Homo sapiens: one gene and its partner. The protein of the gene in region 2 purifies or fractionates together with the protein of the main gene of each other region. This does not show direct contact. Each region holds a gene or a part of one and is shown on either strand. Other genes may lie near its edges.

Region 1 (3,500 bases), on a different chromosome or scaffold from region 2:
TCTGTTTCATGTTCAGTGGACACCCACCAGCTGCTTGGAAGAGCCAAAGGCAGAGCTGGCAGGTATTCCTGAAGCCTTGGGCACTTGGAGGGAGTGAAACCAGACAAGGCAAATGGGACTAAAACTGGATAGGGTAGCGAGGGCCAGGGGGGTGCTTGTTAGAGTCAGAGAAAGGCACCTGACTCTTGAAAAAGGGAACACAGAAGTGGGAGAGAGGCCTAGAAAGAAAGGTAGGAAGTGCCCATGATCTGCTCTTGCCTATTTAAGTGTTTTGCCTGTGGCTAGACTAAAAATAAGGAATGAGGGGGGTATCTTCCACTCTTGCCATCTCATCACCCTATTCCCTATATCCAGAACTCAGAGTCCTAATATTAGTATGAGAAATTGGGGTCAAAGAGGCATATTATGCTGGCTAGTCTAGAAACCAAACCCTAATTTATAACATTGTCTCTATGGGAAAATATGTTCCAAATTTCAAACAATCAACTTAAAATTTTTTGGAACAAAATCCATTCATAAGTTGGAGTCTGCCTATAGTTTACTTTATGTATAAGATAAGGTTAAAATATTTTATTGCCTTATAAAGAAAATATGTCCTAGTCCTCTCAGAAGGTTTATATAAAACTAATTAGAAGCAGATCTGCTGTAATCACCAAAAGTAAGCAATTTTAAACAGATTCTTTACGATGCTATGTGCCAGAAAAATAGGTTTCCTTTTGTGCCAAAGAATCTGATTTGCTGCCATTCTCCTGTGATTAAATGGAGTTTCTGCCTCACACGCAGGCGTCTGTCAAACGCTCACACCTGCAGGGCTTCCAAAACTGGACCTGCTGGCAGGACTCGAGATGACCACATGGAAACCACTAGCAGGCCCTGGACATTCCTTGGGTTTGTTTCACCCATGGGGCCTTACTGCCAACTGAAGACAAGCATGGCCCAGGGCAAAAACAAAACCAGACACATGCAAGAGGAAGCCAGGGAAGAATCCATCCCGAGGAGAGAGAAGACACCCACTGGCTGCCGGCCCTGCCCACTGGTGGTGGGGAGCAGCTGGGATGGGCTGTAACACTGAACTGTGGCATGCTGACCTCCTGCCCAAGGATCACCTGAATCTGCCCAAAGCTTAGGAAGAAATAAGGATCACTGCCAGTTGGGGGAAGCAGAGGAGGCATTTCCAGAATTAGTAACAATACCATTAGCCTTACCTTTTCTACAAAAAAAGCGAACTAGGACTTATCATGTTAACATTTGTTAAGCTTGCTGTGATACAAACTGAGCCAAAAGCAACTTAGTCTGACAAAGTGTCTAAAACGACTGTGAACCAGGAACCAGCCTACAGAACTAAAGCTAGTGTGTAAGAAAGAATACAGAACCATTAGATATTTAACAGGTAACCAATTCTAGACTGAGAAAACTCTAGTCTACCTTCACGCAAGATGCTCAACAAAAGAGAGATCAGAATATGTGAAGGAATAGCAGTGTCTAAGAAACTCCATTTTGATGAGAATAAGTAGAATAGGGAATGATTTTTAACAACACTCTTCCTAATTCTAACTCTGTATTTACCAAGCATGTATACAGTTTTAGAAAAGGGAAAATTAGAGAATTGCCATAGAACAGCCAGTCTTACTGTTTCTAGTTCTTTCTGAGTCTCGTCTTCCATTCTCCTAATGTCTTCCATCGTGAGATCGATCCACTTGTCAATCCAACAAAAAAGCTGGCGATGGAAGTTTGTAAATATCCGTTTTTCTTGCTTTTAAAACAACAACAAAAAAGTAGCATAAGATGACAAAAACCTAAGATTAATGACACATTAACTTTACATGTTCCAATTAACCCATGAAATTTACACATTTGGTTCAAAAAGACTACTCTGTAGATTTGTGGAAATCATAATTCCATTTAATTATCATTGTGTCCAGCAAAATTAAACAAACAAAAAAAAACTTTCCCTGTGAAATGAAAAATAATCTCCTAGGCAAAGGTGTCATGATCTAGTAGAAACTAAAAAAATGCGGTGTGTATGACCTAATCCAACACATTCCTGCTGGGCCTGATTTATTTTTACCTTTTTCTAAATGTCAATGAGCAAAGGTCAACTAGATTTCTTCTGCTATAAAACTATATATTGTCATTCTTAACATTCACTATGAGGTGGAATACAATAATGCATTGAAAGAAAAGAGTCCTGGGTTCTTTTATTAAATTAAGAATCATTACAAACTCTCCCTTAATTTTTCTACACAACATGTTGCTGCCACTATTATAAATATATTTAAAAACCATGTATATAATTAGCGGTTTCAATTGATGGATTATTTAAGTTTTATTCAGCTTTCCCAAGAAGAGAGAAAAGTGCATGGAACAGTAAGTACTTCTGGACAATATTCAACTTAAAAATCTTCTTCCATGAATAGAAAGGACTTTATCAATTACATATGTGACTTCTATTTATCAGAACTGGATTGTTAATCTATGATTATGATCCGAGAGGAAGGAAGAATGCCAATATTTACAGAATGCTGACTGTAAGCAGGCCCATGAATAATCAAAGTTTCCAGCACTTTGAGATCCTTGTCTTATAAAATACTACAGCAGCTATAGTTTAAAAATAGAAAAGTTATGATGAAACAGACATAACTAATTGTGGAGATCTGAGATATAATGAGGGCTTCTTTATAATAATAACAGAATAAATATTCGCCCTACAGGAAAAGTAAACACCAAGGAAATGTTTCAACATTCCTAGGTAGTAACAACCGTGTGCATTTATAAAATTCCAATTCTCCCCTCCTCCTAGATCTAACTGCCCATGTTACTTTCACTTTAATAAAGAAGACATAAAAAAGAAACAAGTAGAATCTGGATCCTCAGATTGTGTACCTTAGTTCACAGTGTGCCCATTTTTCAGTAAAGACCTCTAAAGAAGACATCCCCTGTGACAGCACAAGGCACACATACATATTCTGAGAGATATGGAGGGTAGGGGGAAGGGTCCAGCTGAGATGGGGCAGGGGAGTCCTTCAGCAGGCTGGGCCCGCTCTCTCCCTCCAGTCAGGATCAGAACACCAGGTCCTCTTGGGGACGTGCTGTATGGGGAAAGGGTTCTCTACAGAAGCGCTGGGCAAACCATAAGGTAAGCACTTTGAACAAAAAGCTGCTGTGCTTGTCTCCAAAGAAAGTCCCTTAAAACCTCTGCTGCCATCTGTCTTTGCTGCTTTGAGGTATAAAGAAGGGCTGAAATGAATTATGTAGGGACAATAATTTTCATATCATAAAGGAGGAAAAAAAGTAATAACAGAGAAGATATCCCATTAATAGCTAGCTCCGATCTCATCCTAAATCTAAGTCACCACATTTTGAGCAGATTTTACCTTTTGAATGAAGTTTTCTACTTTGCTTTGCAGTCCCCACCACTTGAATTTGATGGTCACCAGCTTATAGGCACACATCTGGGGACAGTCAGGGCTGTTTGCCAGCTCCTTCTAGATGAGAAAAAT
Region 2 (4,038 bases):
CATTGGCCTTTTTAGTAACAGAACTAGTATTTTGGTATTTTAGGTAAATAAAACATATTTCAAATTCAAATTTAAAATTATAATTTTAAAATTATTTTATTTGATTTTACATTCACTTCTCTTAAACTAAAATCTTAGATCCTAGTGACATTAACATAATTACCCATTTGTTTTATCATATATATGTGTATGTCTATATATTTATTTATATCTACATCTGTAAAATCATCAATATTACCACTAACAGTACAGCTATCAAATAAAATTTGAGGTTTCTTTGTAGTTCTTTATCCTTAGGACATATCCCACTAGAAATACATAGTCAATAACTGTAAAGTCACTTGAAATAATTCTTCTCTGTGTAATTATGCCTTCAGCTTGATAAATAGTTAGGTTCACTTGTTAATTTGCTTTTGCCCATATACTCTTTAAAAAACAAAAATGTAAATAAGAAAAGACAGAAAGGATAAAAAAGGAATCAAATTCTTTTTAGATTGATTAGAGCTGGTAGCATTTAGCTAGTATTACTGTCACTTATTTTAGACGGAGAAGCAAACAGTTGACAGCTTGATGGGTATACTTTTGAAATTAAAATAAAGTTGAGAAAAAGCTAAAATTATTTTGTAGGATAGGAAAAATACACTCAGCTAGCCAGGATTCTTCCTAGCAATAGTGTTAGCTATTTACAGAAGAGTTACAGAGATAATTATGGAAATATGGAAATGGTTAAGGAAAAATAAACTCTTAAGAGAAATGTACTGATCTAACATAGAGGAAATACATATATTTAAGTATAACTTGTTTAACAGCTTTTTTGAGATATAATTCACATACCATATAATTCACCCATTTAAAGTGTGCAATTCAATGGCTTTCGCTATATTCATAGAGTTGTTCAACCATGACTATGATCAATTTTAGAACATTCTCACTACTCCTGAAAGAAACTCTAGGCTGGGCATGGTGGCTCACACCTGTAATCCCAGCACCTTGGGAGGCTGAGGCAGGCGGATCACCAGAGGTCAGGAGTTCGAGACCAGCCTGGCCAACATCATGAAACCTTGTCTCTACTAAAAATACAAAAATTAGCCAGGCATGGTAGTGGTTGCTTGTAGTCCCAGCTACTTCGGAGGCTGAGGCAGGAGAATTGCTTGAACCCAGGAAGCGGAGGTTGCAGTAAGCCCAGATCGTGCCACTGCACTTCAGCCTGGGTGACAAGAGCGAGACTCTGTCTCAAAAAAAAGGAAAGAAAGAAAGAGAGAGAGAGAGAGAGAGAAAGAGAGAGAGAGAGAGAGAAAGAAACTAACTCTATAACCTATAGCTTCCAGCCCCCAACCCTTTCATTCCTTCCAGCCACAAGAAACCTCTAATCTATTTCTGTCTCTATAGATTTGCCTATTCTACATATGTCATATAAATGGAATCATACAATATGTGGTTCTTTGTGACTGGCTTCTTTCACTTAGCATGATGTTTTCAAGGTTTATCCATGTTGTGGTATGTGAGTAGTTCATTTATTTTTATTGCTGAATAATATTTCATTGTATGGATATACCACATTTTACTTATCCATTCATTAGTTAATGGTTACTTGGGTTATTTCCACTCTTTGACTCTTATGAGTACTATTTAGCTATAATTTTAATCTAATAAATAGACAACACTTTTTATCACTTTTTATTCTCCTCATTCTTTAACGTTATTCTGAAGTAGTATTATCTGATATTCTCACTTGGATACCTGTAAAAACAGATCTTTTTCAGATCTTCCATGTATCTCCTGCAAATGTCCTGCAGAGGGTCTCTCTTCAGCGGGCTGGTATCCACTAAATTATCATTCCAGGAACCATTCCAGGGTTCCACACATTCTTCTATACATTTTAGAATTTCTTTATCATGAGGAGATGTGATCTGAGCACCAGTTTCCCAGTAAACCTAGATGATAAGTAAATATAACCATAATTACTTAAAATGCTTGCCAGATCTTTTCTTGTCTATAGTTGAGATCTTCAGCTTTATTAAAAAGCATATCAAATTGAGGCCAGGCACGGTGGCTCACGCCTGTAATCTCAGCACTTTGGGAGGCTGAGGCGGGCAGATCACGAGGTCAGCAGATCGAGACCATCCTGGCTAACGTGGTGAAACCCTGTCTCTACTAAAAATACAAAAAATTAGCCGGGTGTGGTGGCAGGCGCCTGTAGTCCCAGCTACTCGGGAGGCTGAGGCAGGAGAATAGCATGAACCCCGGAGGCGGAGCTTGCAGTGAGCTGAGATAGCGCCACCACACTCCAGCCTGAGCTACAGAGCGAGACTCTGTCTCAAAAAAAAAAATAAATAAAAATAAAAATAAAAATAAAGCATATCAAATTGATCAAATAAAAAATGTCAACATAGGAGGACTAATTTAATAAATATTAAAAGATATAGATAGTAATGACTCTACAGGGACTCTTCAATCAAATGATTATATATGATTTTCTTTTAGAAGTATACCTTAATAACAATATGAGTAAAATACAAGCAGGGCTAATTATTATGATAACATTATAATATGCATATGCCATAGTATCCAATTATACTCTTAAACCTATAACTATCTACTAAAGATAATCCAAGAAACCACAGACTATTCCCTAAAACTTGATACTATTTAACTTAACATTATAAAGTAGTTATGTGATATAGAAAAAAGTCATATTTCTATTATAAAGTAGAATTTATATCATACCAAATATAGTTTATTAACAATTAATGTGTTAATTATCCATATAAATTTCAATGAGCTTTCAGTTTGTCAAGTAGCCTGATCAATAAGACATTAGGAACAGTTACCAAAAAAGCATGAAAATGTAATTCTATTAATTTATAGGATTTCAAATTTGGAAGGTTAGAGAATATCTATGGTGACTTCTACCATGCATATGACACAAATCCCCTCTATTGCATCCTGAATGAAGGAAAGAAGAATACATTTGAATCTGTGCTATGTACTAATCTCTATGCAAAGAATATGGTTAACCAGATGACCTAAAAACCTGTTCTCTATAAACACCTCAAAATGCTACATAAAACAGAAAAAACATTATCTTAAATGCACAGCATAATTCACAAGAGGAAAGGGACGACTCCAGGCAGTGGGAAAAAAATAATTAAAAAGCAGAATGATAAGCCTGTGGGACTGATATTGTGGTTACCTGGGGTTTGAGAACTGTCCATTTATCTGGTTCTTGGATTGTAATGCCCATGTGCAAGGTAGGGAGTTGGAACTGAGACCCCCAAATAAAAATGGCATCCTTGAAGCATTTCACTCTCAGTGAAAATGCAGAATAGAAAAAGTCCTGCCCACTATTACAGAGATCATGAGGAAGCATGTCTCTTCTTGAGTTCTGGGTAATTAAAAAAATTTTCAAATCCAAGGTCTGCACTTCAGTTATTTTAGGATGAGAAACAATAAATTAACACAGAAACTGCCCCCAGTCAGTGAAATCCTTGAGGTTCTAGCAGAATTTTTAAAACAAACAAAAAACCCAGAATGTTTTTTTGTGTGTGTGTGTGTTGTATTGAATATTTTAATATCCTAACAGAAAGCAGATTTACAATATCTTTGTAGTGTTTGGACAACTTAATTTAGTTAATTACAATTTGAATGTTAAAATTTCGACTGATCTTTTCTCTCAGATAATTTAAATGTAAATTTTTTTTTTTTAAGTATTTATTGATCATTCTTGGGTGTTTCTCGGAGAGGGGGATTTGGCAGGGTCATAGGACAATAGTGGAGGGAAGGTCAGCAGATAAACATGTGAACAAGGGTCTCTGGTTTTCCTAGGCAGAGGACCCTGCGGCCTTCCGCAGTGTTTGTGTCCCTGGGTACTTGAGATTAGGGAGTAGTGATGACTCTTAAGGAGCATGCTGCCTTCAAGCATCTGTTTAACAAAGCACATCTTGCACCGCCCTTAATCCATTTAACCCTGAGTGGACACAGCACATGTTTCAGAGAGCAAGGGGCTGGGGGTAAGGCCATAGATTCACAGCATCCCAA

Evidence for each region.
Region 1: the proteins of PGM2L1 (region 2) and PITPNB fractionate together in Homo sapiens (co-fractionation; one large-scale study listed by BioGRID). This does not show direct contact.

Annotation. Positions count from the first base shown.
Region 1 is NC_000022.11:27,856,757-27,860,256, forward strand, and holds part of PITPNB (phosphatidylinositol transfer protein beta isoform), read right to left. Parts: intron 3,486-3,500; coding exon 3,375-3,485; intron 1,754-3,374; coding exon 1,631-1,753; intron 1-1,630. UniProt on the Homo sapiens protein: Catalyzes the transfer of phosphatidylinositol and phosphatidylcholine between membranes. Also catalyzes the transfer of sphingomyelin.
Region 2 is NC_000011.10:74,349,643-74,353,680, forward strand, and holds part of PGM2L1 (glucose 1,6-bisphosphate synthase), read right to left. Parts: intron 1,935-4,038; coding exon 1,741-1,934; intron 1-1,740. UniProt on the Homo sapiens protein: Glucose 1,6-bisphosphate synthase using 1,3-bisphosphoglycerate as a phosphate donor and a series of 1-phosphate sugars, including glucose 1-phosphate, mannose 1-phosphate, ribose 1-phosphate and deoxyribose 1-phosphate, as acceptors.